Linked DNA regions of Homo sapiens. The main gene of each other region encodes a partner of the protein of the gene in region 4 in a complex. Each region holds a gene or a part of one and is shown on either strand. Other genes may lie near its edges. The genes, in order: SNRNP40, PPIH, PRPF3 and LSM2.

The links.
Region 1: LSM2 (region 4) and SNRNP40 share a complex: the UniProt entries of both Homo sapiens proteins name them as parts of the U4/U6-U5 tri-snRNP complex.
Region 2: LSM2 (region 4) and PPIH share a complex: the UniProt entries of both Homo sapiens proteins name them as parts of the U4/U6-U5 tri-snRNP complex.
Region 3: LSM2 (region 4) and PRPF3 share a complex: the UniProt entries of both Homo sapiens proteins name them as parts of the precatalytic spliceosome.

The regions. Positions count from the first base shown.
Region 1 is NC_000001.11:31,265,772-31,272,793, forward strand, and holds part of SNRNP40 (U5 small nuclear ribonucleoprotein 40 kDa protein), read right to left. Parts: intron 5,729-7,022; coding exon 5,608-5,728; intron 3,470-5,607; coding exon 3,387-3,469; intron 2,162-3,386; coding exon 2,100-2,161; intron 1-2,099. UniProt on the Homo sapiens protein: Required for pre-mRNA splicing as component of the activated spliceosome. Component of the U5 small nuclear ribonucleoprotein (snRNP) complex and the U4/U6-U5 tri-snRNP complex, building blocks of the spliceosome.
Region 2 is NC_000001.11:42,668,401-42,675,422, forward strand, and holds part of PPIH (peptidyl-prolyl cis-trans isomerase H), read left to right. Parts: intron 1-6,887; exon of another isoform or gene 6,888-7,022. UniProt on the Homo sapiens protein: PPIase that catalyzes the cis-trans isomerization of proline imidic peptide bonds in oligopeptides and may therefore assist protein folding. Participates in pre-mRNA splicing.
Region 3 is NC_000001.11:150,316,970-150,324,543, reverse strand, and holds the start of PRPF3 (U4/U6 small nuclear ribonucleoprotein Prp3), read right to left. Parts: upstream 3,012-7,574; 5' UTR 2,952-3,011; exon of another isoform or gene 2,406-2,951; intron 1-2,405. UniProt on the Homo sapiens protein: Plays a role in pre-mRNA splicing as component of the U4/U6-U5 tri-snRNP complex that is involved in spliceosome assembly, and as component of the precatalytic spliceosome (spliceosome B complex).
Region 4 is NC_000006.12:31,803,945-31,811,834, reverse strand, and holds the start of LSM2 (U6 snRNA-associated Sm-like protein LSm2), read left to right. Parts: upstream 1-4,868; 5' UTR 4,869-5,077; coding exon 5,078-5,080; intron 5,081-5,692; coding exon 5,693-5,760; intron 5,761-7,890. Other genes in the region: HSPA1L (heat shock 70 kDa protein 1-like), read left to right, coding at 1-1,788. UniProt on the Homo sapiens protein: Plays a role in pre-mRNA splicing as component of the U4/U6-U5 tri-snRNP complex that is involved in spliceosome assembly, and as component of the precatalytic spliceosome (spliceosome B complex).

The DNA.
Region 1 (7,022 bases), on a different chromosome or scaffold from region 4:
GGAGCTTGTAGTGAGCAGAGATTGCACCACTGCACTCCAGCCTGGGCGACAGAGTGAGACTACATCTCAAAAACAAACAAAAATTTAATTACAAAAGATACACTCTTTCTGCTGAAAATTATGTAAAAATACTTAGGATAGTTCTTACTATATCAGAATATGAGACACCTTAGTCTGTTTCTTGAAGTCTTCTCTAGCAACTTGATAACTTAAAATTCTTTAGATTTCCCTCTTCTAGGCAGCTCTCTAAACCACTTGCACTCAAATGATCAATGTGACACTTTCACCTGGACCCTTTCTTTTTCCTCCAGAAAATACCTGAATACTTGTCCATTTTTCTTGGCATTAAACTTGTCAGGAAAAAAAAAAGTAGACTCTGGAATTTAAATATGTTCAGAATTATTCATTAATAGAAAGGTATGGGACAGATCACAGTGCAGCTTCTGTGTGGCAGCGTTAGGGCCCCAAATAGAGGAAAACCCTGGAATATGCTGAAAGCCCTGGCTAGCCCAAGAAAGTCTTCCTATTTATAGGATGGTGCTTGTTTCAGTAGGATTGAAAGAGAAACTCTAAAGGGGAGGATAGGATTAAGCTAAAAAGGGTCAAGACACTGCCCAATGAGAGCTAAACACAGGATTTGCTGTCAGAGGGTCTTATTGTTCTTTACCAGGCCTCATTTGCAGCCCATCAGACTCGACACCTGGACATCCCTATTCAACCTCTGATTCTCCCCCAAGCACAGGTTACCACAGACATGCCAAATACAACAGCATCTGACAGAAGAATTCTCTCCCTTCTGTTTCTCATTCAGCACATAATGCCTGAGCCAGTTTAGATTCGTATTTCATAAAGCCTTAGCCGATTAATTCAGCATGGGGTGGAAAATACCTAGTTCACATTTTGTTACACCCTGCACCTAGCAATCATTGCACTTCCCACTAACCCAGACACAGCTCTGAATCATCTCCAACACAGGCAGGCATTACCAATAGCTGAGCTGCTATGCAGGGTAAAATTGGACTGCCATTCTTCAGCTAGGAATTCATTCATGTAATATAAACTAATTGGTTAGAAAAGCTCAAGCACTGACAACAGTGCCATGGGTTCACAGAAATGACTAAGATTCATTCCCTAATCTCTAGGAGAAAATAACTTAGTGGAGGTACCTCACTTTGTCTGTCTGATTGTAAGATGTAATAAATGCTACCAAAGTTTAGATGTATGAAATGGGATTACAGCACAAAGAACAATTAGTTATCTCCAAGAGGTAATAGAGAGAGGGGACCAGGGACAGTTTATGGATGTAACATAGAGGTGGTTACTAGAGAGATATAGGAGTTTAGATAATGAAGAGGGAATGTGAGAGAGAACCTAGAGGTGAGAACGCAAAAGGAGGTTAGAATATGAAAATTCCATGTGCGCAGCATTGTGGTGATGGTGGGGGAGGTGGGTATTTAATATGTGTTCAAATGAACTGAAGCATGGAATAAGAAATGTGGTGAGGGAAACTAGAGACAGATTATGAGACTGAATTTTATTCTGATGGCAAAGGGAACCCAACAGAATCAAACAAATTGTTGATCCTCTAGGTCTAAAATGTCTCCAAAGTGGGTAGAAATGATCTGTTTGTCGAACACGGTTTTGAAACCCTTCATACTGCACAGAGCTTCATCTTCAAGCACAGTCATAACTCTATGTCTGCTCTAGCTCCATATCCACGCTTTATGTATAAAACACAAGAAGACATCCTGCATAGCTATATCATTGTTTTTTTTTTGGAGATGGAGTCTCGCTCTTGCTGCCCGGGCTGGAGCAGTGCAACGGCGTGATCTCGGCTCACCGCAACCTCTGCCTCCCAGGTTCAAGTCATTCTCTTGCCTAAGCCTCCTGAGTAGCTGGGATTACAGGCATGTGCCGCCACGCCCGGCTAATTTTGTATTTTTAGTAGGGATGGGGTTTCTCCATGTTGGTCAGGCTGGTCTCGAACTGACCTCAGGTGATCTGCCCGCCTCGGCCTCCCAAAGTGCTGGGATTGCAGGCACGAGCCACCGCATCCGGCCAGCTACATCATTCTTTACTTTGCACCCACTAATCCTTACCTGTCGGCTGAGCCAGCTGCTATTTTGCTTCCATCAGGTGACCAAGAACATCTCAGAAGGTTCTATGATAAACAAGAATCCACTGAATAGTAATATACCAAACTCCTCTTTGCAAGGCTACCGAATCACTAAGAGGCTTTAAATTTCCTAACTAGAGTTTTAATTACTCTTCTCAGGAAGATGGTCTGTAATTATCTTATATTCTATGGCCCAAAACAGCATACTTTGTTATTTTACACCATATAAAAACTGTAGAAAATACTTAACTTACAGTTAATTAGATTGAACCTGGCAACAAAATTTTGTTCTACTTATAAATGGAGGCTCCCTTTGCTCCATTTATCTTGATACTCATTTTTTTTCCTATTTATCTTGAAGAAAAATACACGCAAACCCAACAAATAATAAATTTTGGGTTTTTTTTTTTTTTGAGACAGGGTCTCGCTCTCTTGTCCAAGCTGGAGTACAGTGGCACAATCATAGCTCACTGTAGTTTTGACCTCCTGGGCCCAAGTGATCCTCCCACTTCAGCCTCCCAAGCAGCTGAGACTGCAGGCACATGCCACCACACCCAGATTTTTTATCTTTTGTAGAGACAGGGTCTTACTATGTTGCCCTGGCTGGTCTCTAACTCCTGGCCTCCCACCTTGGCTTCCCAAAGTGCTGGGATTACAGCTGTGAGCCACCATGCCAGGTCTAAAAAACAAAATTTGATTTATACAGTGAAACTGAATCTCAATGAGCTCTCAAAAAAAAAAATCTCTATTAACAAATTCTCTGAGGGGAAAAGCTTCTTTCAATAGAGCTGACCTTGAAATTTGAGGCTTTGAAAAAAATTTTCTCTCTCAGAACTTGGGCCGTGGTAGTTACTGAGGGAAGAGATGTATTCTTAGGGTTCTAACACACATGGTCACGGGATGCGGAGGCAGGTAGGGAGACCATCCAGGTTACAGCTATGGGAGCTTGGGTTCCATATGGAAAACTGATTTAGGAGGGTAAAATTCCCAAGTAATTAAAAAGGCCAGGAGTCTCTTGTTGAGGCTGGTGTCAAGTCAGATGCCCTCAGTTTGAGGGCTGGCTCCATTCCTTTTGGGCTATATGACTGGCTTCTCCCCAGTCACTATTATTTCTATCCGTTTTATTTTTGGCAACAAGTTTTAATTAAGAGCAGTGTTATTGGAATGAAGTCCATTCTTAGCAGAGCTACTGCTCTCTATCCTTAGTACCACCTTAAATGTTTCTCTGAAGTAAATGAACAGTAAAACTCCTCTGCCATGCAGAACTCACCTTTTCAAAGTTGTGCACATTTCCTTGAAATATCTTTACACATCTCTCTTTGGGGGCAAATGGCCGGACATCCCAGACACGAACTGCAAAACAAATCCAAATAAACAAACCAACCAAAACAACTATCGGCCAGAGGCCTCCTGGGCACCCAGCTGAAATTAGTATCATGTCAATCAATGGCAGATGCTGTTTCCTCGGTGGGCAAAGTCCAACTTGACATACTGCTACCTGTTAAGGCTCTTTTCTTTTTCAAGCAGGAAAACACATCTAAATCCCAATAACTGGGGCTAGCTGAGGGGGCAGGAAGGAAAAATGTCACACACAATGTTGGTAATTTGCAACAGAATGCAGTTGGGTGTGATACTAATTTCAAAAAGATATTTTGCAAGATTTCTCTGCCAGCTTAGTCACATCCAGCAAAGCTTCAATGTGACAAACTAAATACCAGGAACTACTGTGACAATGAACTTATAAAAGCCAAACTTACATCGCCCTTTCCTAATTTCCCTCATATGGGCACCTGATAGTCTAAGACTGGACAAGGTCAGATATATATAAAATATATAAAAGGTCAAATAAATCAAAAAAGCACTGTACCATACCAAAAATCAGAAAAAGTAAACATTGATTCTATCTCTGTTACATATTTGGGTGATGTCAGGTAAACAGTGAGATTGTTTGTGTCTTGGTTTTTCTGTTCTGTAAAATGAAGAGAAAATTATCTGTCTTCTTTTTAAAATAATATTATTGACTGATATGATTGAGATGGAGTTTCGCTCTTGTTGCCTAGCCTGGAGTGCAGTGGCGTGATCTCGGCTCACTGCAACCTCCGCCTCCCAGATTCAAGTGATTCTCCTGCCTCAGCCTCCCAAGTAGCTGGGATTACAGGTGCCCACCACCACACCTGGCTAATTTTTGTATTTTTAGTAGAGATGGGGTTTCACCACATTGGCCAGGCTGGTCTCAAACTCCTGACCTCAGGTGATCTACCCTGCCCAGCCAATAACACTATTTTAAAGATCCAATGAGATGATATATGTGCAAAGGTTCTAAAATTTGTAGGCAACAAACAAAAATAAAGAATTTGTAATTGTATTATGCAGCCACAAGAAATTATTCTATTATTTTTTCCTTATTTTAGTATCAATCTAGGAAACCTCATTGTTCCTCATAAAGAACGCTAGAATTAGCTAGGCATGGTACTTGGGAGGCTTGCCTGGGCCCAGGAGTTTGAGACCAGCCTGGGCAACACAGCAAGATCCTGTCTTATCAAAAAAATTAAGGAAAAAATATTTTTTTAATGCTAGATTAAATGTGTATAAACATCTATTGTAAGCAGTAGCTATAGCCGTTGTAACTGAAGCTATACCTATAGTGGAATTTCAGTGATGTCATTTTATTTGAGTATGAAAAAAGTATTATCAATCCTTGGAGTCAGACAGGCATAAAAAGGCAAAGCTATGCGTGAAAGTTTGCCATTGAGAATATAGTTAAAAGGTAAAGATGTCCATTAATTCAACAAATATTTATTAAGTACCCAATGAATGTCAGGTATTGTTTTTGTTACAAAATGTCAGGGAATACATTTTAGTTCCTGACAAGCCTATAATTTTGTATACCAGGGCCATTTCCAAACTCCCTCAACATTAAGCATATAATCCAGCAAGTCACCTTACTTTTTTTCTGTAGTAACCCATCCTCCCACCCTACAACTCAAAAACAAGTAAAGAGAAAGAGCAAGAGTGTGTTCGTGTAAATCCAGAATGTTTTAATGAAGACCTCTTCCCACACCAATGCTTTCAGAGTGGGGAGGGAAGACAGACTGGCAGGAAAGAGCAGAAGAGATCATCCAAGCTTGGTGCTCTCTGAAAACGCACAAGAACTGCCTTGAATAGACTTCTAGATTCACATCTTTTTCATTAAACTCATCACCTAGAGTTTCTAATATCCTGTTGGATACACAGCATACCAGAGCTGAGATGGGTCTTAAAGGTAAAGTCCAATCTTCTTATCAATGTAGAAACTGATGCCTAGAGAGAAGAAATGCTGTGTGCAAAGTTGTTCAGGGACAAGACAGAGATCTGAGACTACAGTCCTAGATTCTTGACTATCTCACCTAAAGCTTTCCCCATTACAACACATTCTAATCGTCTGATGGAATCTGTGAGCAATCTTTGACTTTTTCCTTGGATCCTGGGAGAGATTTCCTTTCCAAAGTTACCTGTATTGTCCATTGCATTGGACAAAAGATAAGAGCCTTCAGAACTTAAACTCAGGCCAGTCACTGAATCTGCATGGCCTCTCATGGTGTAGGTTAGCTTGTTCTGGCGCAGGTCCCAGACCTGCAAAAACAGAAAGGTGCCCCCAGAAATCAAATTAATAAAAGCAGAGAAAGAGAATGACACAAGAGACAAGAGTCAATTGCCCAGAGACACTGATATTACTCTACTATAAAACACAGGATTTCTGTCAAAGAGAAAAACACCTTTTTTTAATTTTCATTTTTTTTTTGAGACAGCGTCTCACTCTGTTGCCCAGTGCAGTGGCACTATCATGGCTCGCTGTAGCCTTGACTTCCCGGGCTCAGGTGATTCTCCCATCTAAGCCTCCCCAGTAGCTGGGACTACAGGAGCATGCTACTATACCCAGCTAATTTTTCTGAAGAGACAGGTTTCACCATGTTGCCCAGGCTAGTCTTGAACTCCCGAGCTCAAGCAATCCTCCCACCTCATCCTCTCAGTATTTGGATTAACACGCATGAGCCACTATGCCTGGCCAATCTCTGTCTTTCTAAAAAGGTAGCTCAGGCTACCACGTTTGACTAGATAAATATAAACGAATGCATATCAAATGTTAAGATAAAGTTTTACACACAAAAAAATAGAATTCAGAAAGGTTATTTTCAAATCATAGCAAAGAAAAACTATTATAGAAAAAAACTAAAAATGGCTATGATTCTTAGCCATTAAAAATTATTATAAATACATAAAACGAACATGTCATTTAAAAAAGGCATTATGATTACATGTTTGTGTAACAATATGAAAAATACAGATGCTTAAAATTTTTCTTTTAATGTAACAATATGTGACAATAAATGTATATATATGTACATGTATGGATATGTACATGCACATACACTATGGAAAAGCACATTTATTAAAATAAAAATAAATTACAGGTTCACTATTGCTTGTATAGGAAACGTAAGATACAGAAAATAACCTAAACGTCAAGCAGGAAAAATAGGTGGTTTATTAAATTATGGTTCATAAGCACATTGCAAAACTGAATTCTCATACAGGAGATAGCATGACAGAGTAGAAAGAGTGGTGACTTAGGGTAAGAATAAACTGTTCCTTGCCACTTAGAGTTATGTGTCATTGGGTCACTAATTCTTTCTGGGCCTGTTTCCTGGTCTGTAAGATTAGGGATAACAATAGCTACTTCTTACGGCTGTTGTAAGGATTATAAGAATGCTTAGCATATGCCGGGCACAAGACAGGTCCTCAATAATGTGTAGCTATTGTTAAGCAGTTCCTAAAAATAACTCAGAAGACCAAATGTAAAAATATTTACATAATAAGCTATTAAGCAAAAAAGGAAAATACAAAACAGTATTTATCTTTACACAGA
Region 2 (7,022 bases), on a different chromosome or scaffold from region 4:
TCTTCCTTCCTTTACCCTTTCTTCTTCTCTTTCCCATTTGAAAGTTGCAGACTTCTTGACACTTTACCCCTAAGTATTTCAGCAAGGAACTCCTAAAAATAAGAACATCCTACGTAACCACAATATTATCTAATATATAGTACATTTTCAAACCTCCCCAATTGTCCCAAAAGTAACTTTTGTAGCTTAAAAAAAGGTGATCCAATCAAGGTTCCCATATTTCATTTCATTTGGTTTACACAAGTAACATAATACACTCTCATTGTGAAAACTTTCACACCAAACAGATAAAGTGAAAGCCCCTCTTGACAATACCCACCTGCAATTCCACTCCCCTTTCCAAAGGTCACTTCCTTATTAGTTTGATGTATGTCCATCAGGGCCTTTGCCTTGCCCATCTAATTTTGGGAGGTTTTCTTTTTCCCAAATGAAATCATACTATATTTTTCATGTTCTAAAAAATATGTCTTGAAAACTTTTCCTTCTTAGTTCATGTAAAACCACCTTGTATTAAAAAATGAAAACAGCCCGGCAGGAGGTGGCTCACTCCTGTAATCCCAGCACTTTGGGAGGCCAAGGAGGGCAGATAGCTTGAGCTCAGGAGTTCGAGACCAGCCTGGGCAACCTGGTGAGATCCCGTCTTTCCAAAAAAAAAAAAAATTAGCCAGGTGTGGTGGTGCATGCCTGTAGTCCCAGCTACTCAGGAGGCTGAGGTGGGAGGATTACTTGAGCCCAGGAGTTTGAGGCTGCAGTGAGCTATAATCACACCACTGTACTCCAGCCTGGATGACATCAAAAAAAAAAAAAAAAGGAAAAGAAAAACCGAAACTGCAGTGCAGGCTGAGCATCCCTAATCCGAAATCCCAAATGCTCCAAAATATGAAGCTTTTTGAGCACTAACATGACATTAGAAGTGGAAAATTCCACACCTGACTTCATGTGATGGATCATAGTCAAAAATCTGTTTCATGCACAAACGTATTAAAAATATTGTATAAGATTACCTTATACAATAGCTATAAGTAGCTAGGACTACAGGTGCATGCCACCACGCCCAGCTAATTTTTATATTTCTTGGTAGAGATGGGGTTTCATCATGTTGGCCAGGCTGGTCCCCACCTCAAGTGGTCTGCCCACCTTGGCCTCCTAAAGTGCTAGGATTACAGGCGTGAGCCACTGCCCCCAACTGAGCATTAGTTCTTAATTTTATATGTTGTAATTGTTTTCTTCAGAATATATTTTAAGAAAAAAATTAGTATTGTGTTGCTTAAGTTTGGTGATATTCTTTGTTAAAGAGAAGTTCTAAATTTTGATGAAGTCCAAATTATCAGTCTTTCACTGCTTTTCAGTTTTGTCTCATTTAAGGTCTTTACTACCTCAGATCACAATGTTTTCTGTGTTTTTTCTAGTATTTCTTTTTATATGGTGGAGCTAAGATCATTTTTCTAGTATTTTTAAAGTCTTATTTGTACATTTATAAAATCATCTATAATTAATTTTTCTGTATAGTGTTAAGATAGGACTTTTTCTTGTCTTTTTTTCCAAATGGAGATCCAGTCAAATACCTGACCATTTTAATGACTCTACAACACACCTTTATCTGTGACCAACTCTGTTCAGAAAGCTGGCACTTACAGGCATTCAGTAAAAATTTATTACATGAGTTAAGTAGAGAGGGAGAATGTCAGGCATTTTAGGCGGGGAACTCGTGTGAGCAAATGCTGAGGCTGGAATGCACAAGTGTGTGCTGAGAGCTACATGTGGACCTCTCTTGTTCAGCCAGATGATCCCTTCTCAGGCCCACTTGACACCCTGAGCTTTCCTTTCTGCCAATACTGGGTCCCCCTTGGGCCCAGCCTGCTCTCCCTCTTCAATGGCTGCTGGCCATTCCCTCCGTCTCCTACTCATTTCTTTGCTGTAACTAAAGTTGAGTTCATAGGTCCTTTCTTTTCAAAGACTGACCACTGATCACTACCAGAGGACAAACGATAACAAAAAGAATAAAGTTTAGAAATTCTTAATGTTGGGGCCTCTTTTCTGTATCTTTTTGAGTCTTTTACATAAAGTTACTGGAAGTCCTTGTTGAGGTTTTATTTCTGAGGGTGGGGATCATCAACCCTCCCCGCTCTCCCCCACTGTTAGCAAAAGTTATATGAACTTTTGCTTCCAAGAAAGCCCTTCTTCTCAGCCTGCAACCCAAGCAGAACGCATTCCTCAGGTGGCCATTGTACATTCCACAGGCCCGCTAGACCAGGACTGTCCATAGGCTGTGATGATGGAAAGATTCTAGATCTGGGAGGTCCAGTATGGTTGCTACCAGCCCCATGTGACAACGGAACACTTAAAATGTGGCTGGTGCAACTGAGGGACTAAACTGTTAACTTTTTATTTTTTATTTATTTTTTATTTTTTTGAGATGGAGTCTCGCTCTGTCGCCCAGGCTGGAGCACAGTGGCGCCGTCTTGGCTCACTGCAACCTCTACCTCCCGGGTTCAAGCAATTCTCCTGCCTCAGCCTCCTGAGTAGCTGGGATTACAGGCGCACGCTGCCATGCCTGGCTATTTTTTGTATTTTTAGTAGAGACGGGGTTTCATCGTGTTAGCCATGCTGGTCTTGAACTCCTAAGCTCAGGTAATCTGCTCATCTTGGCCTCCCAAAGTGCTGGGATTATAGGCGTGAGCAAACATTCCCAGCCTATTTTTTTTTTATTGACAGAACTAAGCTGTAGTTTATTAAATTTAAATTAGGCTGGATGTGGTGGCTCACACCTGTAATCCCAGCACTTTGGGAGGCCGAAGCAGGTGGATCGCTTGAGGCCAGGAGTTTGAGACCAGCCTTGCCGACATGGTAAAACCCATCTCTACTAAAATTACAAAAATTAGCCGGGCGTGATGACACACGCCTGTAATCCCAGCTACTCCAGAGACAAAGGCACGAGAATCTCTTGAACCCGAGAGGCAGAGGTTTCAGTGAGCCAAGATTGTGCCATTGCACTCTAGCCTGGGCGACAGAGCGAGACCCTGTCTCAAAAATAAATAAGTAAATAAAAAAATAATAAATGTAAAGAGCCAGTTGTAGCTAGTGGCTACTGTACTGGACAGTGAACTCTTTTAAATGTAAGCTTCTCAATCTACTCGCCCTGGCTTGCTTAGAACTGAATCTCGTAGCTAATACTTAAGGGCACTATAATTAAAGCAGTTATCCTTCAATGAATTCTTCCTGTGCCCGGATAATGAGCTAAGAACTTTACTTGAATTATCGCATTTCACTTTACCAAAAATCCCTCATAGGTTTTAAGGTGTTAGGAAATCTGGGTGGCAGTCTAATGTAAAGGGGTTCTACAGATGGGCACCCCATTTTGGGTTTCTGAATAATGTGATTTAAGAAAAATTAATGAAAGAGGAGATGAATTTCCCATGGAGCAGGGGTGTGGAGGGAAGGGAAGTGGTATTTTTAAGCCCTATTGGGCAGTATTTCTTTCTTTCTTTTTTTTTTTTTTTCGAGACGGAGTCTTGCTCTGTCGCCCAGGCTAGAGTGCAGTGGCGCGATCTCGGCTCACTGCAGACTCTGCCTCCCAGGTTCAAGCAATTCTCCTGCCTCAGCCTCCCGAGTAGCTGGGATTACAGGTGCCCACCACCGCACCCAGCTAATTTTTGTATTTTTTAGTAGAGACAGGGTTTCACCATCTTGGCCAGGCTGGTCTCAAACTCCTGACCTCATGATCCATCCGCCTCGGACTCCCAAAGTGCTGGGATTACAGGCATAAGCCACCATGCCTGGCCGGGCAGTATTTCTTATACTTTAACGTTCATACGGATCTCCAGGAGATTTGTTATAAAATAGTGGTTCTGACTCAGTGGGTTTGGATGGGGACTGAGATTTTGCATTTCTAATCAGCTCTCAGGTGATGCTGATGCAGACTGTGAGGCAAGTCAATAGGGGATAAGAGTCTATCTTTTAATTGAGAACTTGCCATATTCCAAAAAAAAAAAGACCAAGAGGAAGTACTCTCTTGGTGGCACTAGTCCAGCAGGAATCCATTGCATTCACATCAAGGTATCACCTAATCCTGCATTTGAGGCCTTGTGCCCAGGCACTGGACATATGCAGTGAAACAGCTAAGAAGGAGATAGAAGACGGGTCACTTGATCAATTCTACCTCCCTATGGAGCACTTCTTTCCAGAACCTTTGTGTTTTGCCTTCCTAGGTTCTGACTTTGGTTTTAGTGAAAATGAAGTTTTGTGTACAATTTTTTTTTTTTTTAAGACAGAATCTCACTCCGTTGCCCAGGCTGGAGTGCAGTGGCACGATCTCAGCTCACTGCAACCTCCGCCTCCCAGGTTCAAGCGATTCTCATGCCTCAGCCTCCCGAATAGCAGGGATCACAGGCATGCTCCACCACGTCTGGCTAATTTTTTTGTATTTTTAGTAGAGACAGGGTTTCACCAAGTTAGCCAGGCTCGTCTCAAACTCCTGATCTCATGTGATCTGCCCGCCTTGACTTCCCAAAGTACTGGGATTACAGGCGTGAGCCACCATGCCTGGTCTGTACAACTTTAGTTATAGAAACCTTGGTTTTATCTCAGTGAGTTCTGGGAGAGTTTTTTTTTTTAGACAGGGTCTTACTCTGTCACCCAGGCTGGAGTGCAGTGGCGCAGTCACAGCTCACTGCAGCCTCGACCTCCCTGGCTCAAGTGTTCCTCCCACCTCAGCCTCCTTAGTAGGTGGGATTATAGGCGTGCAGCACCACACCCAGCTAACTTTTTAGAGATGGGGTTTCACCATGTTGTCCAGGCCGGTCTCAAACTCCTGGCTTCAAGCGATCTTCCCACCTCAGCCTCCCAAAGTGCTGGAATTACAGGCATGAACCACCGTGCCCAGCCCTTGGAAAACTTTTTATGATGAATTTGGTTATGTATAGCATAAATGAACCTCTACACTCAGGATTCTCCTGCTGTAGTCTGAATGGGTTGTTTGCTACTTACATGGACATGGGAGAGGGTGGCACCTCTCTTTTGAAAGCCCGAGTTCTGGCAGCTCTGCTAGTCTGATATGCTTACCCTCTTCCCTGTGATCCTCAAACCTGGTACCAGTACCAAATGGTAGAGAGCTTTCCTTAATTCATTGTTGCCTAGATTCTCCAACAGGTAATAATCATTTTGGGGCACTCGTTAAACCTACGAATTCCTAGATCCCTTCCCTGGAGTATTTGATTGAGTGGCTTTGGGGTGGGACCAGGATGTTATGTTTGTAACAAGTATCTCACATGCTTCTTAATAGAGAAGTGTGGGAAACACTACTTTAGTTAGTGGTGGGATGACTGTCTTTTATTTTAATATTTGGATCTTAGGAAAAAATACGGAATTAGCACAATACATCATTTTACAGTTATTACAGCTTATAGTGAGGCAATATTGAAGTTCAAATAGTGATTAGCTTAAAAAATAAATTGTACCTGTGGATGATAGATATTGTAACAGTTGTGAAGATGCTATTTGAATGACTAAGGTTTAGGAAACACTGTGTTTCATTCTAGAATTACCTATAGATGCGAGACATTCCCGTAGGGGAAGATTAGGAAATATGTGTTGGTGGCAGTTGGGCTGGTCCTCTATTCATTCCACAACTAAGCGCTGATGAATTAAGATAGTTCCCATGCTGCATATGAGGCTACAGATTTGAAAAGTCAGTTCCATCCTTCAAGGAACTCAGTCTCTTGGGAGAACTGACAATTACAGTACAATAAAGCCCTGTATTGGAGGTTTTAGAACAAGGTGAGGAAAGCATAAATGCCCGGATCTTCCCAGAGTGGTTGAGTAGACTACAGAAGAGATGATGCTTCAGTTTAGTACAAGAAAGAATATAACTTGTCAGGTGGCTAAAACTGGGCAGGGCATTCCAGGCAGAGGGAACAGCCTATGCAAAGTCACAAAGGCAGGAAACAGCAGGAAGTGTAGAGGAAGCTGCAAATAATTCAATATGACTGAAGCAGGAAGATATGAAAAGCAAATGGTGAGAAGGTTGGAGAGAGGCCAGGGCCAGTAGTGAAAGCCAGTGCCAAGTTTAGCAGTTCATATGTTATTCTGAGGGCAGAGGCTGACTTTCAGGCATGAAGTAATTTTTCCCTTTTGGGGAAGGAGTCCACTGTGCTCCTGAGATTCTCAAAAGGGGCACTGACCCTCCAAAAAAGAATCAGGCCAATATGAACCACTTAAGGATTTTCAGCAGAATACTGTAGATGAATTTTCATGTTCAGAAGATGATTCTAGCAGCATTGTGGAGGATGGGCTGGAGGCCAGTGAGGAGTCTACTGCAGTAGTAGTCCAGGCAAGAGAAAAGAGGTTTTACATGAAAATATGGGTCTGGGGAACACTGGAGATTTGGCAGCAAATATTTATGTGCCTGCTGGGCATGTGACACTGTATGTTCCCTGTCCTGAAACTCAGAAGCTCTGCCAGCTGAAAAGGCCAGGAGTGGAGAGAATGTCTGGCTCCAGTCCATTCCAGTCCAGTACAAAGGCAAAGCTGCTTGCATTGCAGCCAAGTCTTACACACGTAGAGGTTCCATTCTCTTCAGTGGAATACTATACAGCCTTAACAAAATAAAGAGGTAGATCTGGATGTGTTGGCAAGATTTCTAAGGTAAGTTAAGTGACAGTCAAGATGTAGTAATTTATGTAAGCATGTTACTGTTTATTTTGAATGACTTTCAGGAATCTCTGCAGTGATATATAGCAGACTGTGGATAATACTTCTGCAGAGTAGAGATAGCAAAGAGACTTTTCAGTTGCCTTATTTAAGCTTGAATTTTCTACCTTGAACATGTATCTTGTAATAGAAATACATACTGTTTATATGTAGTGTTAACTAATCCTAAATCCTCCCAGCACTTCCCAGGAGCCTGCCCACAGCTGTGGCTAACATCAGGTGTGAATCCATTGCTGATCCCTCCACCTCCTCTTCCAGGTCTAAGCCCAGACAGTGGGTGCTCCCACAGCACTTGGTTCATCTCTCCACTGTGG
Region 3 (7,574 bases), on a different chromosome or scaffold from region 4:
CCAGGGAAATGGTTAGTACATCAGGAATGCATTCCCCAGCCCTATTCTCAATCCCTAGACAAGTTTTTCCAACTCATTTGAAGGCAAATATTTTCCCCAAGAACCATATCTCAAAGCAGAAAGAGATCCCATTTGATTTTTAATTCTAACTCTTAAGTTGATCAATGAAATCTGCGGAATAAACAAACTCTGTGAATAAGCTAAGTCTGAGAAATTAGTTCTAGCTTCTTTCTTGATCCTGTCATATCAACAAGGACTTGCAAACCTAGTAACACTAAAACAGAACTAAAAAAGCCCATCCAGAGGCCAGCTTTTCCATTCTTCCTACTTCCAGGCAGGCATTCCCTAACCCAACCCTGACTTATGTAGGATTCCCTTCTTTTAAGGTATGCAAGTAAAAGAGGGTTTATCCAGGTCAGTCATCTTAGATATTAAATTAAATCTCATGATCTTTAAGAATGTTCTGGCCGGGCGCGGTGGCTCACGCCTGTAATCCCAGCACTTTGGGAGGCTGAGGCAGGTGGATCACGAGGTCAGGAGTTCAAGACCAGCCTGGCCAAGATGGTGAAACCCCATCTCTACTAAAAACTACAAAAAAATTTAGCTGGGCATGGTGGCAGGCGCCTGTAATCCCAGCTACTCGGGAGGCTGAGACAAGAGAATCACTTGAACCCAGGCAGCAGAGGTTGCAGTGAGCCAAGATCGCGCCACTGCACTCCAGCCTGGGCAACAGAGTAAGACTCCGTCTCAAAAAAAAAAAAAAAGAATGTTCTGTCACATTTCTCTGTGGTCATATTCATCCCAGTGGGAATTCTGCATACAGGTAATTATCATGTTCAATCTACAGGGTCTCCATCAGCTGACTTGATGATCCTTCAGCTCAGAAAAGAATACCCTCATTTTTATTTTGAGACAGAGTCTCACTCCGTCGCCCAGGCTGGAGTGCAGTGGCGTAATCTTGGTTCACTGCAACCTCCATCTCCTGGGTTCACTTGATTCTCCTGCCTCAGCCTCCCAAGTAGCTGGGACTACAGGCATGCACCACCACGCCTGGCCAATTTCGTAGTTTTAATAAAGACACGGTTTCACCATATCGGCCAGGTAATGCCTTACCTCAAGTGATCTGCCCACCTTGACCTCCGAAAGTTCTGGGATTACAGGCGTGACCCACTGCACCTGTCTCTACTAAAAATACAAAAATTAGCCAGGTGAGGTGGTGGGCACCTGTAATCCCAGCTACTTATGAGGCAGAGGCAGGAAAATCACTTGAACCCAGGAGGCGGAGGTTGCGGTGAGCCAAAATCATGTGCACTCCAGCCTGAGCGACAGAGTGAAACTGTGTCTCCAAAAAAAAAAAAAAAAAAAAAAAAGCCAGGTGCGGTGGCTCACGCCTGTAATCCCAACACTTTGGGAGGCCAAGGCGGGTGGATTATCTGACGTCAGGAGTTCGAGACCAGCCTGGCCAACATGGTGAAACCGCATCCCTATTAAAAATACAAATATTAGCTGGGCGTGGTGACCTGCACCTGTAATCCCAGCTACTCTGGAGGCTGAGACAGGAGAATCCCTTGAACATGGAAGGCGGAGGTTGCAGTGAGCCGAGATCGCACCACTGCACTCCAGCCTGGGCGACAGAGCAAGACTCCGTCCCGGGGAAAAAAAAAAAAGGTGTCTAAATGGGAGTCAATAAATTGACTGACCTCAATTTCCAAGCTCAGCTATTCCCAGCAGTGCCACTTATCAAAGATCTGGGAATCATCTTTCAAGATGTTTTAAGACATCTTTTCTCCAAAAAATCCAGTCTGATTAACTTCTACATTCTTGGTAAGTTTAGCCTCTATACTAGAGTCTATAAGACTTGATGCCAAATAGACTCACTTTTGGTATATCCAAAGGAAGCTAGTAGATTGAAGTGATGAAACTAAGACTGAAAGATTTTCTGCCTCAGTGACAAGTTACGTGAGTAATTCTATGGTGGTTCTATTACCCCACAATGAGTAGACATACAGCGTACCAATTTCTACATATTACACATGTATTGCACAAAAGCGGCATATCCAGATGCCATAGAAAGTGAAAACAAGAGTTCACACAGAAACAGTTGGGACACTGAGCCCCACCATTTACAAGCCCTTGGGCAAGTTAAGTAATTCTTTGGAGCCACAGTTTACCATCTTACAAAATGAGTACTGCCATATTTACATCCTAATTCATTCAATAAATATTTATTGAGTAACTACTAAGTGTCAAGCAATGTACTAGGTGCGGTGGATACATAAAACAGTGAGCAAAACTAACAAGAGTCCTCACCTTAACGGGTCTTATATTCCACTAGAATTGAATGATAGGCTAGAAAGTATAAGCAATTTGAAAGCCCAAAGCAATAAATGAGGTGCCACTGTTACCTCCATAAGATGACGTGCAAACTAAACAGCCAATGGATAAAAAAGTTTCAAACGGTAATTAGCCTTGTCACTAATCAAATGCTCAACAATAACTGCGAGGTGCGGGGGTAGTGGGGGTGCGGAAGGAAAGCGAGGTACAATGATCTCTCCTCTCAATGAGCAGGCAGCAGAATCCAAATCCAGTCTTCAGAAGGAATTCCTTACTCCGTGCTCTTGTTTGCTACAACCTGAGTTTCCCTCTGCAGCCCCCCACTCCCCCGCTAATCTTCATTTTTACTCTCTCCGTCACTCCAACCAGTCTCTTACTCTACCTTGTTCTACCTAAACTCCTCACCCCAGAGCTGGTCTCCCAACCCGGTCTCCTTCCCGCCCCCGCCCTTTTCCTCTCAACAATCTCATTCCAACCTCTTCTCCCACCAAACCAGGTACTCCTTTCACACTCCTTCCCGCTGAACCCTCCCGCTTCGGTCCTCCCCTTGGACTGAGTCCCCGGCCACAGTGGCGCGGACTGGAATTACCCTCTGTGGGCCCGGGGCCACTACTCACCTCACAAACTTCAGCCCCTGAGACGGAGCCCGAACGTTACACCGGAACCGGAAACCTTCTGACCGCCCTACGGCGTGCCGTCGCTACCGCCACCGCCGCCGCCACGCCGCTGTCTCCCAACACGTGACCAAGGAGGGCCGGGCCGCCAATTCGCGCAGCCGTATTTGCCACTTTCTTGGAGGCTGAACGCATGCGTCGCAGAACCGAAAAGTTTCCCTGAGCAATTTCCTTGCTTTCTATTTCCCAGGCTAAACCTATTAGCTAGATTTCTGCCAAGGTTTTTTTTTTAGCTTTTTTTTTGAGACGGAGTCTCGCTCTGTCGCCCAGGTTGGAGTGCAGTGACGCGATCTCGGCTCACTGCGAGCTCCGCCTCCCGGGTTCACGCCATTCTCCTGCCTCAGCCTCCCGAGTAGCTGGGACTACAGGCGCCCGCCACCACGCCCGGCTGATTTTTTGTATTTTTAGTAGAGCCGGGGTTTCACCGTGTTAGCCAGGATGGTCTCGATCTCCTGGCCTCGTGATCCGCCCGCCTCAGCCTTCCAAAGTGCTGGGATTACAGGCGTGAGCCACCGCGCCCGGCCGATTTCTGCCAAGTTAATGTCTTTAACTTCCTGAAGCGGAAATTGGGCTACTTGCTGTTTTCCTCATATGGAGAATAAGTGCGCAAAAGTAAACTTAGGCTAGAATGAAGAGCGAGGCTTCTGCGTTTGTGTTCAAACACAGCCTTTCTGGTAGAAAGTAAACCCTTTCTCCCTAATTTAACAGTGGTGTCAGGCCGGGCGCCGTGGCTCACGCCTGTAATCCCAGCACTTTGGGCTCAATAAATGACAAGTGAGACCTACCAGTATTGTTTTCTCCATTCTATCAATAGGTCTATATATTAACTTCTCTCCAAAATGAGGCTCTAACCTACTGACCCTTTATTTTTTATTTTTATTTTTTATTTTTTGAGACGGAGTCTCGCTCTGTCGTCAGGCTGGAGTGCATTCGGCTCACTGAAACTTCCGCCTCCCGAGTAGATGGGACTACAGGCGCGCGACCACCACGTCCAGCTAACTTTTGTATTTTTAGTAGAGACGGGGTTTCACCATGTTGGCCAGGATGGTCTCCATCTCTTGACCGCGTGATCCGCCCACCTCGGCCTCCCAAAGTGCTGGGATTACAGGGTTGAACCACCGCGCCCGGCCCCTACTGACTCTTTAAATCGATGATTCATAACAACATGTGTGTGGACAAAGATAGTTTGGAAAAAGATTGTCCAGTATTATGACACAATTTCTTATATGAGAAATGGAAAAAATTCCATTATTTTTATATTATAAACTATCCAAACTAAAGTTCCAAAATGTCTTCTTGGTGGTAGGCTGACTAGAAGATGCAGTTGTTCTTCAGGGAGGTTATTCACATTCCCCAGATAGTAGGAGATTTTTGTATCTAAAGATAACAATGTACATACCAAGCCCCACCTTCCCTGATGGGGCAGCACGACATAACAGGATAAAGCCTGGCTCTGAAGGAACAAGTTGGGGGAGTTTGAACCTACTGCTCAACTTATTCACAAATCAGTTTCCCCACCTACAGCTTCTAACACCAATGTCTCACAAAATATTCACTCAAAAAGTCTGTTGAATGGGTTAATGAGTTTCAACATTGCAGGGTTGTTGTAAATTTATTTTGTTTTGGTGCTTCTAACAGTCTGCGTTCAATTCCCTATGGAGAAATGTGTTTCTAGAAACTGGTTTTAGGCCAGGTGTGGTGGCTTACGCCTGTAATCCCAACACTTTGGGAGGTCGAGGCGGGTGGATCACTTGAGGTCAGGAGTTTGAGACCAGTCTGCCGACATGGTGAAACCCCATCCCTACTAAAAAAAATGCAAAAATTAGCTGGGTGTGGTGGTGGGCACCTGTAATCCCAGCTACTCAGGAGGCCGAGGCAGGAGAATTGCTTGAACCCGGGAGGTGGAGGTTGCAGTGAGCCAAGATCGCGCCACTGCACTGCAGCCTGGGCGACAGAGGGAGACTCCATCTCGACAAAACAAAACTGATTTTATTTCCAATTTTTAGAATTGGATACATTTAAACTGTAGCTTTCCGGTTACTAGCTGTGTTTCCTTCAGGTAATTTTTTCTGAGATTGTTTCCTCAATTATAGAATAAGAATCTCTACTTCAAAAAGGTATCGTGAGGATTAAATGTAATGTGTAAGACACAGTGTGGTACTGGCGTAAGAACAGGCAGGTAAACCAACAAAAGAGAATAGAGGGTCGGGCGCGGTGGCTTACGCCTGTAATCCCAGCACTTTGGGAGGCCGAGGTGGGCAGATCACGAGGCCAAGAGATCGAGACCATGCTAGCCAACATGGTGAAACCCCGTCTCTACTAAAAATACAAAAATCAGCTGGGCGTGGTGGCACGCGCCTGTAGTCCCAGCTACTCCGGAGGCTGAGGCAGGAGAATCACTTGAACCCGGGAGGTGGAGGTTGCAGCCAGCCGAGATTGCACCACTGCGTTCCAGCCTGGTGTCAGAACGAGACTCTGTCTCAAAAAAAAAAAAAAAAAAAAGGAAGAATAGAGAGCCCAGAATAAACACTCACATATATGGTCAGCTGTATTTTTTTTCTTTTTCTTTTTTGAGATGGAGTTTCGCTCTCATTGGCCAGGCTGGAGTACAATGGCGCGATCTCGGCTCACCGCAACCTCCGCCTCCCAGGTTCAAGCAATTCTCCTGCCTCAGCCTCTGGAGTAGCTGGGATTACAGGCAAGCGCCACCACGCCAGGCTAATTTTGTATTTTTTTTCTTCTTTGTTTTGAGACGAGTCTCGCTCTGTTGCCCAGGCTGGAGTGCAGTGGCACAGTCTCAGCTCACTGAAACCTCCGCCTCCTGGGTTCAAGCAATTCTTCTGCCTCAGCCTCCTGAGTAGCTGGGACTACAGGTGTGTGCCACCACGCCCGGCTAATTTTTTGTGGTTTTAGTAGAGACGGGGTTTCACCGTGTTAGCCACGATGGTCTAGATCTCCTGACCTCGTGATCTGCCCGCCTCGGCCTCCCAAAGCGCTGGGATTACAGGCGTGAGCCACTGCACCCGGCCTCATTTTGTATTTTTAGTAGAGACGGGGTATCTCCATGTTAGTCAGGCTCGTCTCGAACTCTGGACCTCAGGCGATCTGCCTGCCTCGGCCTCCCAAAGTGCTGGGATTACAGGCATAAGCCACCGTGCTCGACATTTTTTTTTTTAGACGGAATCTCCCTCTGTTGCCCAGGCTGGAGTGCAGTGGCTCAATCTTGGCTCACTGCAACCTCCACCTCCTGGGTTCAACCAATTCTCCTGCCTCAGCCTCCCGAGTAACTGGGACTACAGGCGCATGCCACCATGCCCAGCTAATTTTTTTGTATTTTTATTAGGGGTTTCACCATATTGGCCAGGCTGGTCTCAAACTCTTGACCTCGTGATCTGCCCACCTCAGCCTCCCAAAATGCTGGGATTACAGGCATGAGCCCCTGCACCTGGCCATGGTCAGCTGATTTTTGACAAAGGTGCCAAGGCTATTCAATGTGGAAAGGACAGTCTGTTTAACAAATGATGCTGGGAAAAGCAGATATCCACAAACATAAGAGTTAAATTGGACCCCCTACCTCATACCGTATACAAAAATTAATTCAAAATGGATCTAAGACCTAAATTTAAGAAATATACAAAAACTAGAGGTCGGGCACAGTGGCTCACCCCTATAATTTCAGCATTTTGGGAGGCTGAGGCTGGAGGATGACTTGAGGTCAGGAGTTCAAGACCAGCCTGGCCAACATGGTGACTCAATCCCCGTCTCTTCTGAAAATAGAAAAATTTACCAGGTGTGGTGGCACACTCTTGTAGTCCCAACTACTTGGGAAACTGAGGCAGGAGAATCGCTTGAACCCAGGAGGCAGAGGTTGCAGTGAGCTGGGATCACGCAACTGCACTCCAGCCTGGATGACAGAGGGAGACCCTGTCTCAAATAAGTAGATACATACATAAAAGTAGGGCTGGGCACAGTGGCTCACATCAATAATCCCATGCAACTGCACTCCAGCCTGGATGACAGAAGGAGATTCTATCTCAAATAAATAAATGTAGGGCTGGGCACAGTGGTTCATATCTGTAATCCCAGCACTTTGGGAGGCTGAGGTGGGTGGATCACTTGAGGCCAGGAGCTCTAGACCAGCCTGCCCAACATGGTGAAACCCCATCTCTACTAAAAATACAAAAATTAGCTGGGCATCGTGGTGCATGCCTGTAATCCCAGCTACTCAGGAGGGAGGCACTAGAATCTCTTGAACCTGGGAGGCAGTGGTTGCAGTGACTCAAGATTATCCCACTGCACTCCAGCCTGGGCCACAGAGTGAGACTCTTTTTTTTTTTTTTTTTTTTTTTTCGGAGACACAGTATCGCTCTATCCCCCAGGCTGGAGTGCACTGTTGCGATCTCAGCTCACTGCAACCTCTGCCTCCCAGTTTCAAGCAATTCTCATGCCTCAGCCTCCCGAGTAGCTGGAATTACAGGTGCCCGACATCACGCCCGGCTAATTTGTGTATTTTTAGTAGAGATGGGGTTTCGCCATGTTGGCCAGGCTGGTCTGCAACTCCTGGCC
Region 4 (7,890 bases):
ACAGACACCGAGCGGCTCATTGGGGATGCGGCCAAGAACCAGGTAGCAATGAATCCCCAGAACACTGTTTTTGATGCTAAACGTCTGATCGGCAGGAAATTTAATGATCCTGTTGTACAAGCAGATATGAAACTTTGGCCTTTTCAAGTGATTAATGAAGGAGGCAAGCCCAAAGTCCTTGTGTCCTACAAAGGGGAGAATAAAGCTTTCTACCCTGAGGAAATCTCTTCGATGGTATTGACTAAGTTGAAGGAGACTGCTGAGGCCTTTTTGGGCCACCCTGTCACCAATGCAGTGATTACCGTGCCAGCCTATTTCAATGACTCTCAACGTCAGGCTACTAAGGATGCAGGTGTGATTGCTGGACTTAATGTGCTAAGAATCATCAATGAGCCCACGGCTGCTGCCATTGCCTATGGTTTAGATAAAGGAGGTCAAGGAGAACGACATGTCCTGATTTTTGATCTGGGTGGAGGCACATTTGATGTGTCAATTCTGACCATAGATGATGGGATTTTTGAGGTAAAGGCCACTGCTGGGGACACTCACCTGGGTGGGGAGGACTTTGACAACAGGCTTGTGAGCCACTTCGTGGAGGAGTTCAAGAGGAAACACAAAAAGGACATCAGCCAGAACAAGCGAGCCGTGAGGCGGCTGCGCACCGCCTGCGAGAGGGCCAAGAGGACCCTGTCGTCCAGCACCCAGGCCAACCTAGAAATTGATTCACTTTATGAAGGCATTGACTTCTATACATCCATCACCAGAGCTCGATTTGAAGAGTTGTGTGCAGACCTGTTTAGGGGTACCCTGGAGCCTGTAGAAAAAGCGCTTCGGGATGCCAAGATGGATAAGGCTAAAATCCATGACATTGTTTTAGTAGGGGGCTCCACCCGCATCCCCAAGGTGCAGCGGCTGCTTCAGGACTACTTCAATGGACGTGATCTCAACAAGAGCATCAACCCTGATGAGGCCGTAGCATATGGGGCTGCGGTACAAGCAGCCATCCTGATGGGGGACAAGTCTGAGAAGGTACAGGACCTGCTGCTGCTGGACGTGGCTCCCCTGTCCCTGGGGCTGGAGACGGCTGGGGGCGTGATGACTGCCCTGATAAAGCGCAACTCCACCATCCCCACCAAGCAGACACAGATTTTCACCACCTACTCTGACAACCAACCCGGGGTGCTGATCCAGGTGTATGAGGGCGAGAGGGCCATGACAAAGGACAACAACCTGCTGGGGCGGTTTGACCTGACTGGAATCCCTCCAGCACCCAGGGGAGTTCCTCAGATCGAGGTGACGTTTGACATTGATGCCAATGGTATTCTCAATGTCACAGCCACGGACAAGAGCACCGGCAAGGTGAACAAGATCACCATCACCAATGACAAGGGCCGCCTGAGCAAGGAGGAGATTGAGCGCATGGTTCTGGATGCTGAGAAATATAAAGCTGAAGATGAGGTCCAGAGGGAGAAAATTGCTGCAAAGAATGCCTTAGAATCCTATGCTTTTAACATGAAGAGTGTTGTGAGTGATGAAGGTTTGAAGGGCAAGATTAGTGAGTCTGATAAAAATAAAATATTGGATAAATGCAACGAGCTCCTTTCGTGGCTGGAGGTCAATCAACTGGCAGAGAAAGATGAGTTTGATCATAAGAGAAAGGAATTGGAGCAGATGTGTAACCCTATCATCACAAAACTCTACCAAGGAGGATGCACTGGGCCTGCCTGCGGAACAGGGTATGTGCCTGGAAGGCCTGCCACAGGCCCCACAATTGAAGAAGTAGATTAATTCTTTTTAGAACTGAAGCATCCTAGGATGCCTCTACATGTATTTCATTCCCCTCATCTTCAAACATCATTATTATTCTTGACCAGACCTGAATCTAAGTTACCATCCCTTGGAAATTCTGGAGAAGGAGTCTCATGCACCACCTATCACACTCCCTCACATCCTGTTTCTGACTTTGGAATGGACTCAGGAAAACTAGGCCCCTCTTTAAACCGTGTGATGTATTTGAATGTCTGTTATTTCCAGCCACCCTAACATTCTTCTTCCTGTGTGGATGCTTATTTGTCAATCAGTAAATTTGTTCGTAAAGAAAATTACTTCTGGTATTTAGGCTGTGAATGTACCTTGAAGGGGAGAGTTCATGGAGAGAGCATGTGTTCTCTGATTGTGAGGTCACTGTGAATGATTAAATTGGTAAGGGTAAAGTATTTGAATTTTCATGAACTCATTTTGTGTGTGTGTGTGTGTGTGTGTGTGTGTGTGTGTGTGTTTTGAGAGACAGTCTCGCCCTGTCACCCAGGCTGGAGTGCAGTGGCACAATCTCAGCTTACTGCAAGCTCTGCCTCCTGGGTTCACGCCATTCTCCTGCCTCAGCCTCCCGAGTAGCTGGGACTGCAGGTGCCCCCCACCATGCCCGGCTAATTTTTTGTATTGTTTTAGTAGAGACGGGGTTTCACTGTGTTAGCCAGGATGGTCTCGATCTCCTGACCTCGTGATCCGCCCGCCTCGGCCTCCCAAAGTGCTGGGATTACAGGCGTGAGCCACCGTGCCCGGCCCATGAACTCATTGTTTCAATCAGCCACATAATTTTTGATCCTCAGACACCTTTAGCACAGATGGAACAGATGGCAAACTATAACTGCTTTTAATCAGTTACAAGCTGGTTTTGGAGTTTAGGACTCAACTGGGGGTGGAGGGACAAATCCTGCTTGATGTCCTGATGTCACTTATAGGTAAGGTCCAGGAGATTCAGCATCTATGCACTCACAGAGTTCATTGTTTACATCCATTACATGGAGAAAATATTTCTTTTCTTTTTTTTTTTTTTTGGAAACAGTTTCGCTCTTGTCGCCCAAGCTGGAGTGCAATGGCACGATCTCGGCTCACTGCAAACTTTGCCTCCCAGATTCAAGCGATTCTCCTGCCTCAGCCTCATGAGTAGCTGGGATTACAGGCGCTCACCACCATGCCCGGCTAATGTTTGTGTTTTTAGTAGAGACGGGATTTCACCATGTTGACCAGGCTGTTCTGAACTCCTGACCTCAGGTGATCCACCCACCTCAGCCTCCCAAAGTGCTGGAATTATAGGCGTGAGCCACCGTGCCCAGCCCCAGAAAATATTTCTATAACAAACTCTTGACAAATAAGTATGTCTATGCAAGATGACAAATACAAGTTTTATGAAGTCTCAGTCCATGAAAAAATATTTTTACCAGCTGGGCACAGTGGCTCACGCCTGTAATCCCAGCACTTTGGGAGGCCGAGGCGGGCGGATCATGAGGTCAAGAGATTGAGACCATCCTGCCCAACATGGTGAAACCCCGTCTCTACTAAAAATACAAAAATTAGCTGAGGACGGTGATGCGTGCCTGTAGTCCCAGCTACTCAGGAGGGTGAGGCAGAGGAATCGCTTGAACCCGGGACGTGGAGGTTGCAGTGAGCTGAGATCGTGGCACCACACTCCAGCCTGGTGATAGAGCGAGACTCCATCTCAAAAACATTTTTTTCTTTTACCTGTGTCCTAATACATATTTATAAAAACCTGGGGGATATGAGTTAGAATAATATGTAACTGCATTTCTGTCTGTTTGTGTTTGAAACATTTAACAGTGAAATGTTAGACTGGGTTATTTGTATCTGTGAGCCACAGTCTCTTTAGTTTTACACAGTCCTTTACAGGACAGTCTTGGCAAAAGTGTGTAAGAAATGCGGAGATTGAGGTTGGCTCCTTTGGAGAAATGTATTTATTGGTAACCTTTGATAAAATCAAAATTTGTGCTCCAGCTCCTCCTTATCTCTGGGACTGCTCAACGTTGTTTGTTTATAATTTTCTTTTTTCTAGAGAGAGTCTCGCTCTGTCACCCAGGCTGGAATGCAGTGGGGAGATTGTAGCTCACTGTAACTCTTGGGTTCAAATGATCCTCCTGCCTCAGCCTCCCCAAATGCTGGGATTTACAGGCCTCAACATTTTTTGTTTTTTGGGATGGAGTTTTGCTCTTGTTGCCCAGGCTGGAGTGCAATGGCAAGATCTCCACTCACTGCAACCTATGCCTCCTGGATTTACAGGCGCGTGCCACCACACCCGGCTAATTTTTGGGTTTTTAGTAGAGACAGAATTTCGCCATGTTGACCAGGCTGGTCTCGAACTCCTGACCTCAGGCGATCCACTTGCCTTGGCCGCCCAAAGTGCTGGGATTACAGGTGTGAGCCACTGCTCCCGGTCATTTTTTTTTTTTTTTTTTTTGAGACGGAGTCTTGCTCTGTCGCCCAGGCTGCAGTGCAGTGGCGCGATCTCGGTTCACTGCAACCTCCGCCTCCCAGGTTCAAGCGATTCTCTTCCCTCAGCCTCCCGAGTAGCTGGTATTACAGGAGCCTGCGACCACGCCTAATTTTTTTTGTATTTTTAGTGAAGATGGGGTTTCACCATGTTGGCTAGACTGGTCTCGAACTCCTGACCTCACACAATCCACCCACCTAGGCCTCCCAGAGTGCTGGGATTAAAGGCTTGAGCCACGGCCCTCGGCCTTTTTTTCTTTTTATCAGCTGAATTTAAGATTCAAAACATTTTTTAATTTTATTTTTTAAATTTTATGTTTTTACTTTAACAAATATAGAAAAGTGCACACTTCATAATCTTAACAAACTCCCCACAATTCTCGATAGGAAGTGTGTGTAGGGCACAAACACATCACGCTGTAGATGGCAGGATTCTGGAAAAGAACAAAATCCTTTGAGCTCAGGCGCTGAGTCCCGCCACCCGTCTGGCAGCCCAGGCTAGGGTCCGCGCCTGCGCAATGGGAGCCGGCCGGCCAGGGAGGAAGTCGGAATGAAGGAAACCCCGCCCCTTTCCCGGCTTCCTCCTCCCCTCTACTCTACCCAGCTTGCGCTCCCCAGCCGCAAGTCGGCCGCGCTTTGCCCGTCAGCGCTTGGAGCTTTCTGCGTCGCTTCCCGCTGCGCCTGCGCGGTCCCGCCTCGCCCCACGCGCGGGCTCGCGCTTCGGTTTCCCCAGACCTGCTCGCAGCACCCTGCTGTCTTCCCGGTCCGGCCCGCTGCCCGCGGCGCCAGCACCATGGTGGGTACCGTGACGTCAAAAGGGGGCGCCCTCGGGGACCTCGCATGGTTGGGGCGGGGGATCTGGCCTTTGTACCCCTAGGCTGGAGTTAGGTCCGGAGTTTTTATCTTCATCTTTAGTACTGTACTGTTTCTCAGGTTCATTGAGGAGGCACTGAGAACAAATGGGATATTTTTTCCATGATGAGGGAAAAAACCCCAACCCTGAGAGAGATTCAGTGAGGATAGCGGGAGACGGAAAAGTTAGACCTCAGAGCACTTCTCTGCCAGGCAAGCTTCGGCAGGGTGCGGGTGGGATATTTTCTACAATTCATTGAAAGGAGTGGGCAGGTACCCGAGAAAGGTGGTCGACTGAGAGAGCACAGTGGGGAGGCCGACGTATGCAGGGCAGAGTCTCTCTGGGACTTTAAGTGATGGGCTCAGTGCAGTGTGCAGAATAATTTGGGCTCCAGCCTTTCAGCTCTGTCAACCAATTATTCTTTCCTGTGAAATTTTGAGAACTGTCAGGGATGCAGTGGGGTTCACAATACCAGTATTTGGTAATACTGTCAAAGGACACTCCTCCCTACCATGCTCCTTCCCACATGATGGTTTTCCCCCTCTCTCCCAATAGCTCTTCTATTCTTTTTTCAAGTCCCTTGTGGGCAAGGATGTGGTCGTGGAACTAAAGAATGACCTGAGGTAGGTACCTGTTCCAACAAGTCTGTTGGGGGTGGGTGTGCCCAGGGCCCTGGAACCTCTTTAATTTGAGAAATATTTCAGGGCTAGGCGAGGTGGAAGATGTACAGAAGAAATAAATGGATAGGGTGCAGTGGCTCAAGCCTGTAATCCCAGCACTTTGGGAGGCTGAGGAAGGAGGAAAGCTTGAGCCCAGGAGTTTGAGGCTGCAGTGAGCAGTGATTACTCCATTGCACTCTAGCCCAGGCAATAGAGCAAGACCCCATCTCTAAGAAAAATTTTAAAATTTAGCAATAAATAAATGCCTTGTGCCTTAAATTTACAGATAAGCTTAGAGATTGTATCGTGTATTGGAAAACAATACAAAGCAATATATAGTTTAAAGAGTAAATACAGGTCAGGCGCAGTGGCTCACGGGCTGGACGTGTGGCTCATGCCTGTAATCCCAGCACTTTGGGAGGCCAAGGTGGGCGAATCACGAGGTCAGGAGTTCAAGACCAGCCCGGTCAAGATGGTGAAACCCTGTCTCTACTAAAAATACAAAAATTAGCCGGGCACGGTGGCTGGTGCCTGTAATCCCAGCTACTCGGGAGGGTGAGGCAGGAGAATCGCTTGAACCTGGGCGGCAGAGGTTGCAGTGAGCTGAGATCACACTGCTGCACTCCAGCTGGGTGACAGAGTGAGATTCTGTCTCAAAAAAAAAAAAAAGTAAGTACTAGGCTGGCCATGGTGGCTCACACCTGTAATCTCAGCACTTTGGGAGGCTGAGGCAGGAGGATCACTTGAGTCCAGGATGTCGAGACTAGTCTGGGCAACATAGTGATGAGACCTCTATTTCTATAAAAAATTAGCCAGGTGTAGTGTACATGCCTGTAGTCTCAGCTATTCGGGAGGCTGAGGTGGGAGGATCACTTGAACCCAGGAGGTCAAGGCTGCAGTGAGCCATGATTGTATCACTTTACTCCAGCCTGGTTGACAGAGGAAGACTCTGTCTCAAAAAAAGAACAGGCCAGGCCGGGCGCGGTGGCTCACGCCTGTAATCCCAGCACTTTGGGAGGCCGAGGCAGGCGGATCACAAGGTCAGGAGATTGAGATCATCCTGTTTAACATGGTGAAACCCTGTCTCTGCTAAAAATACAAAAAATTAGCCAGGCGTGGTGGCATGCTCCTGTAGTTCCAGCTACTTGGGAGTCTGAGGCAGGAGAATGGCGTGAACCTGGGAGGCGGAACTTGCAGTGAGCCAAGATGGTGCCACCGCACTCCAGCCTGGGTGACAGAGCAAGACTCCGTCTCAAAAAAAAAAAAAAAAAAAAAGAAAAAAAAGAACAGGCCATAGGCCGGGCACGATGGCTCATGCCTGTAATCCCAGCACTTTGGGAGGCTGAGGCGGGTGGATCACGAGGTCAAGAGAGCGAGAACAGCCTGGCCAACATGGTGAAACCATGTAGTGTATCTAATACCTAGCATAGGCCAGTTATATGATAGGTGCTTAAAGAAAGAAAAATAATATCCGAAGACGTATTGACTAACCACTATTCTGAATACATTTATTGATTGATTTCTCAAACACTGCTAAGTAATATATACTATTGCTGTTTTACACGAGGAAACTGAGGCTTAGATCAGCTATACCACTTGTTCAAGTCTACAAAACTAGTAAGTGACACAACTGAAATATGATTCTGTCCAGCTTTTTTTCTTTCTTTTTTTTTTTTTTTGAGATGGAGTTTCAGTCTGTCACCTAGGCTGGACTGCAATGGCGTAATCTCGGCTCACTGCAGCCTCTGCCTCCTGGGTTCAAGCAATTCTCTGCCTCAGCCTCCCTAGTAGCTGTGATTACAAGTGCCCACCACCATGCCCGGCTAAATTTTGTATTTTTAGTAGAGATGGAGTTTCACCATCTAGGCCAGGCTGGTCTTGAACTCTCGACCTTGTGATCCACCTGCCTCAGCCTCTCAAAGTGTTGGGATTACAGGCGTGAGCCACTGCGCCTAGTCCTACTTTCTTTCTTAAAATAATATTTATTTATTTAAAAATTAGAGACAGTGCCTCACTTTGTTGCTCAGGCTGGTTTCAAATTCTTTGAGTTCAAGCAGTCCTCTTGCTTCAGCTTCCCAAAGTGCTGGGGTTACG